2 separate regions of the Homo sapiens genome follow, and region 1 is reported to be linked to region 2. Evidence: microRNA targets listed by miRTarBase, many of them from high-throughput screens and not tested one by one. Region 2 holds a microRNA gene; the other region holds the end of a gene's coding sequence.

Evidence for each region. Region 2 holds the annotated microRNA hsa-miR-3934-5p (UCAGGUGUGGAAACUGAGGCAG, at 1,602-1,623, shown strand). A microRNA usually pairs through its seed, bases 2 to 8, with sites in the 3' UTR of a target mRNA and lowers its output. Matches are read on the target gene's strand: a 7mer-m8 pairs with bases 2 to 8, a 7mer-A1 pairs with bases 2 to 7 and ends in A, and an 8mer does both.
Region 1: the mRNA of BHMT2 is a reported target of hsa-miR-3934-5p. Seed matches in the 3' UTR shown: 7mer-m8 at 840-846 and 7mer-A1 at 883-889.

The regions. Positions count from the first base shown.
Region 1 is chr5:79,088,349-79,091,426 of GRCh38, forward strand. It overlaps BHMT2 (betaine--homocysteine S-methyltransferase 2), which reads left to right. Exons shown (of 8, transcript NM_017614.5): 8 at 145-1,721. The coding sequence ends at 226. Among named protein-coding and RNA genes, the nearest start is that of BHMT2, 20 kb to the left of the region's middle.
Region 2 is chr6:33,696,551-33,699,550 of GRCh38, forward strand. It overlaps MIR3934 (microRNA 3934), which reads left to right and starts at 1,578; the gene lies at 1,578-1,684. ITPR3 (inositol 1,4,5-trisphosphate receptor type 3) reads left to right here. Exons shown (of 58, transcript NM_002224.4): 58 at 1-12. It overlaps UQCC2 (ubiquinol-cytochrome c reductase complex assembly factor 2), which reads right to left. Exons shown (of 4, transcript NM_032340.4): 4 at 214-1,200. The coding sequence ends at 1,103. RefSeq lists an enhancer at 1,006-1,981.

The sequences.
Region 1 (3,078 bases), not on the chromosome of region 2:
AAGTTTTGACTGTGTGTGTGTGTGTGTGTGTGTGTGTGTGTGTGTGTGTGGTTATATACATATACATACATATATACATATATGACATATTGGACTTATAGGTAAGACTTTTAATTAATTAATTATGTATATATTGAAACACAGGGCTCGAAGGGAGTATTGGGAGAATCTGCTGCCAGCTTCAGGCAGACCTTTCTGTCCTTCGCTGTCAAAGCCAGACTTCTAAGGAGTAGTGAAAGAAAACCCTGAAATAATCGAACAGGAAAAAGTTGCCCTCAAGCCTGACCTGGAACCGTTCCTCACCTTCATCCTCACCATGCCCTGCTATCTCCAGCTGCTGAGCAGCTGAGGTGCTGCAGCCCCTTCCCTTCCAGCCCACAAGTGTGTGCATATTGAGCTCCTGCTGTGGTTAAGCACTGCAACAGACTCTACCAGAGATGCAAAGAGAAGCGAGAGAGGCACCTTGTTCTCCAAGAACTTACTGTCCAATCATGCTGTGGTGCATTCCTTTGAAGATCATGAAGAATAGCCAAACTTGTCTTTGAGGGTGAATTTGACACTTTAAAATAATCAGAAGTCACTGAGACCCAAAGCTAGTGAATAATTCAAGTGACTAAGCTAGATACTTGAGGATGATAGAGCAACACTAAACTAAAGCAATGAGTCTGCTTTTTTTAATGATTTATACAATGACTCCAAAGGCAATCCCAAAGAAAAGATGTAAAGAATGTTTTGAGCAATGGTAGCATTATTGAAATAAATGTTTAACTATCCAAAGTGATTACTTTCAAAGATGATTTTTACTTAAAGATATTAGGTCTGGCCAGGCGAAGTGACTCACACCTGCAATCCCAGCACTTTGGGAGGCCGAGGCGGGCGGATCACCTGAGGTCAGCAGTTCAAGACCAGCCTGACCAACATGGTGAAACCCTGTCTCTACCAAAATACAAAAATTAGCCGGGCATGATGGCGGGTGCCTGTAATCCCAGCTACTCGGGAGGCTGAGGCAGGAGAATCGCTTGAACCCAGGAGGCGGAGCTTGCAGTGAGCCGAGATCAGGCCATTGCACTTCAGCCTGGGTGACAGAGTGAGACTCCATCTCAAAAAAAAAAAAAAAAGATATTAGGTCCTAGAATTTTTAAAATGTGTCTTCATAATCATAGGTAGCTAGGTTATAAACTATTTAAAGACAAGATCACGTGATAAGCTTATAATCTTCTCATAATTCCCCTTACTTAGCATTGTGTTAGACATACTAATAGGTGCACAGTGAAATACTTATTGTTGATTGTTTAAAAATAAAGTTTTAGAAAACCTTTTCAAAAGTCAGAGTTTAGGCCAGGGGCACAGGCTGACACCTATAATCCCAGCACTTTGGGAGGCCAGGGCGGGCAGATCACTTGGGTCAAGAGTTCAAGGCCAGCCTGGCCAACATGGCAAAACCCCATCTCTACTAAATAAAATACAAAAATTATCCAGGCATGGTGGTGCATGCCTGTAATCCCAGCTACTTGGAGGCTGAGGCATGAGAATTGCTTGAACCTGGGAGGCAGAGGTTGCAGTGAGCTGAGATCGCCCCACTGCAATCCAGCCTGGGAGACATAATTCAAATCTATTTTGGTCTTATATCTTCTTATGTTTGTGTTATTTCATGTGTGCCAGTTTCTCTTTTTTTCACAACAATTTATCAATTTGTGGCAATAAAAATGATTTACCTTTTATAGTGTTTGAATGTCGAAAATGTCATGAACATTCTTTGGAATAATACTAGCAAATATTTATTACTCACTATGTCGCAGTCTTTGTTCTAAAGATGATCTCATCTACATATACCCCCCAACAGGGATTCAAAATTAGATAGTGTTTAACACAGTAGTTTACAGGTAAGGAAACTGAAGTTTAAGGAGGCTAGGTAACTTGCCTGAGGTCACACAACTAGTAAATGTGAAATTAGTAAATTTGGATTTGAACCCATGGGGCTGGCTCTAGAATCCATGCCCTTAGCTACTGCACTACACGGCATCTGTCATGCACACAGCTGCTGCTTTTTGTCAAAAATCTATCCAAATTTTTCTGTCGCTGGATTCAAAGTATTTTTTATCAACTTTCCTTATTATGAATTAACTCTTCAAACCTGCCATGACTGTTTCTGTAATGTTGACAACCTGGAATTTATTTGATATAGCCACTTTACCCATAATACACAACCCCACCCTGCTGGAAATTAGAAAGTGAATCATTTACTATTATCTCAAGGCCTTTGGGGTCCTTAAGGGTGACTAATCCAAACCACCAATTAAATACCTGAATATCCTCGCCAGCATCTTCATCAGGACCATCCAGTCCCTGTTTGAATCCCTTAAATAGTAACTCACTACCTCTCGAGATCACTTACTCCTTTTTAAGAAACACTTCATTCTCTGGAAAGTTATTCCATGTATTAACTAGAAATCTATTTATTAATGACCCTCACCTGCAGACTTGGAGCACCTAAAGTGCAAATTTATAATTTCTTCCATATAACTCTTTGAAATTTAAAGATAGCTGTATGGCTTTCCTATACTTACTTGTCCTCATTTCCTTCAACTAAAAGGCATAGGCTAAGATGTGCTTTGTCAAATCTACCTGTGTGACACTGTACAGTTACTTAAGCTTTATGCCTTAATTTCCTCATCTGTAAAATGAGGGTAAAATAGAACCATCCTTATTAGGGTGCTATGAGGATTAAATGAGATAAGTTTCTTAGAAACAGTGCATGTCGTATAACAGGCATTCATTGCACATTATATAGTATAATATAATTATGTTGACTTGGTTTCCAATCCCCTCATCCTCATGGTGACTGTCTTCTGGGAACACTCTGGTACCAAAGCCTCTGCTTATTTTTAGTATGTAGTCCTGAACACCACATTCCAGGGGAGGACCGTTTACACAATATCTCCTGCTTGCTTCATAGATTTTGTGGAGAGGGCAGTGCAGGACATCATGAGAATAGCAAGAGTGAAGAAGGTACATTAGGAGGGAGAGATGTCTCCACACCGAATCCCTTCCTTGGGTCTGCACCAGCACAAACAAAGG
Region 2 (3,000 bases):
AATAGAAATCTAGTCCGTTAAAAAGGGATGTGTTTCCTGCACTCCCCCGGGGGCTGTGGGGATTAACAGGACACACTGGCAGAAGACAGGAACAAGAGCCCCTCCCTGCTGGCCTGGCCTCTCAGGCTCTCAGGAGATACGCTGAGTGACATCCTGTCTCAAGGGTCCTCCCCTGAGATTTGCCTACCCAGAACTGCATTTCGGCATAACTGGTTTCTACGGCAGTCCTGTCGATTTTATTTTATGCATTTCAGAACATCCTGAGGAGTCTAGACACAGACGAGGTTAAGAACCCACTTCCACTTTGTACCCACCAGGGCCGCTGTGGGCCCAGCCCTGTCCCTCACGGTTCCAGAGAGAAGGATGCTCAATATCAGTAAGAGCCAAGGTTCCATGGAATAATGAGGTGACCCTGTGTGTGTCCTCAGCCAGCAGGGCCTCTGACTTGTGGCCACCTACAGAACCTGCCCACAGTGCTGAAGCCAACTGCAGCTGAGGCCCCGCTTGGCCAAGGCCTGTCTATAGCTTCCCTGTCCCTTAAGCCAACTGGGCAATGTGGGTTTTTGCAAGGTCAGGGATAGAGGCCTAAGGTCCATCCTTCTCTGAGTCAGTGGGGATGAGGGCCAAGCAGGCTTTTTGCCTCTCTCGGCCTCACACCTCCCTACTGCTTTCTGTTTGCAACAGGATGCCCTTTTCAGTATTTACTGCTATTTTTGGCTTCCTCCCAGGAGCTCCTACAACAAAAGGGAGCCTGAGTATCTTGCCAGGAGACACCAGACCCGTGCCAGAGGGGCGGGGGCTCCCGTGGCAATGCAGGAAGCACCTTGTGCCGAGGCCCCATTACCCTCATCAGGCCCAGAGGGAAACCTGCATTTCCTCTCCCCAGGAGATTTCCCTACCCTGAGCAGCAGTCACAGCAGATAGCTCAATCACCATCCCTTCTCAGGCTGAAACTTTCTTTAGAGCAGCAAGGGCTTCCTTTCTGGGAAAGCTAGAGGAGATTCCCAAACCGTAAGGTCAAGGGGAAACTGGGGCAGTTTTATTGACGATGGCAATGTACAAGACTCCACACCTAGGTATGTGCACGAGGTAAGGCCTGAGCTCAGGCCTTATGATCCTCCTCAGGACCCTTGGGGGCAAACTTCTCCTGCAGTTTCTTCCACATGCCTTTATCTATTTCCTTAAGCTCTTCCAAGGTGTCTGCAAAAGGGGAAGACAAAAAGAGAGAGGGACTGAAGTCTAAAACTTGATGACATAGATTGGACCCACTGGGCTTTCCCGACACAAGCATGGCTTGCTTTTCACACAGTGTGTTCCTGAAAAAGGTGGAGACCCAGCTCCTGAAGAGCAGATCAAACAGGTAACAGAAGTGACCGCTTGCGGGGACTGAGCACTGTGTGCCAGACTCTGTGCCCAGCACGCTGTCAGTGGTCTCCTGCCCTCTCCTCACCCTCGGCATCAAAGCGGGATGTGCTGCTCGTTGCCCTGCTCCGTATGAGGGCAAAGAAATGGCCCTGCGCTGTCCGCTGTGCAACCCACAGACCCAGATGCTTCATCGCAAAATTTGGCCTGCTCCACACAGCCCTTCCTGTCCCCAGTTTTCAGGTGTGGAAACTGAGGCAGGAGGCAGTGAAGTAACTTGCTCAGGTTGCACAGCTGGGAAGTGGAGCAGGGATTTGAATCCTGGTGTGTGGACTCAGCACATGCTGTGGAGTTGAGCAGGCACTGGGAGGGGGATGGCCTTGGGCCTGAATCCGAGCCCATCATCTCCCACTCTGGGTCCCCTCAAGCAAATTACTTAACCCTCTACGCTTCGGGTTCCTCATCTGTAAAATGAAGATAAAAACACACATCTGCAGACAACTTGGGGAGAGGTGAAAAAGTAAGAAAAAAAAAACCACACGTACCTCAAAAGTTGTAAGGATTAAAGAAAAGCATGGAGGTAACTCGCTTGGCACACAGCCCGCACTCAATGAAAAGGCAGCCATCATCCACCACAATGCAGGCGGGAGGGGCTCTTGTTTAAGAACATACACGTCCCTACACCCAGGAACCAAAGCAGGGTTTCTTGGCCTTGGCACTACCAACACTTTGGGCCAGATAATTTTTCGTCGTGGGCTGGCCTGTGCATCACTGAAGGCTGTTTCAAAGCATCCTGGCCTCTACCCACTAATGCCAGTAGCACCGCTGCCCGCACCACCAGTTGTGACAACTAAAAATGTCTCCAGACATTGCCACATGTCCCCTGGGGGGCAAAACCATCCCCCCAGTACGGAACCATTTGTCTAAAGTCTCTAGGGCTAATGTTCCATGAAATCTAATTTTACGTGCATGTTAAATTTTAGATATTCTTATAATATTGTTTTGCTTTACCAGCCTAAATTTTCACGTTAACAAAACTACTGGAGAAAAAAAGAGTATCTTTTCTGACCAAAAAAGGTAACAGAAAAAAGCCCCTGCTCTGGAGCTTTTCCAGAAGTCCATGTTTCCAGTGTCCAGGTGGACACTGAGGCCTCCCTTAGGCGCTTTCCATGACCCCAATCCCAGGGTGGACACACACATAACCCAGAACACAGCACATTTCAGACTTGCCAGGCCCTCAAAGCCTCTCACTACAAGGTGCTGCAGGTCTTTTCTTGTCCTGTCAGAGGAAACATTTGGTAAGCTTACGCCACACAATTTGCAACAAAAATATGAGGCTTGCTGTGAAAACAAATTCTCAGCAAATTTCCTGAACTAAACTCGCTGCCAGAACAAGCTGCAGCGCGGACCAATGGCGGGACTATCTCCCAGCCTTCGTTGCTGCCTGTTTTCCACTTGCAGAGGCTGCCCTGAGGTGAACAAAACAGAGGGCAGAGGCAGGGCCTCTGGAACTTACTTCCGCCCTCACTTCAAGTTCAAACTTTGCTCAAACTGTCCAGGGCCCTCACAATAATGTGCATCAATGCTGCTAATTACACGGACCCAGGGATATAGGAGTAAATTTACACATTAAAAAAA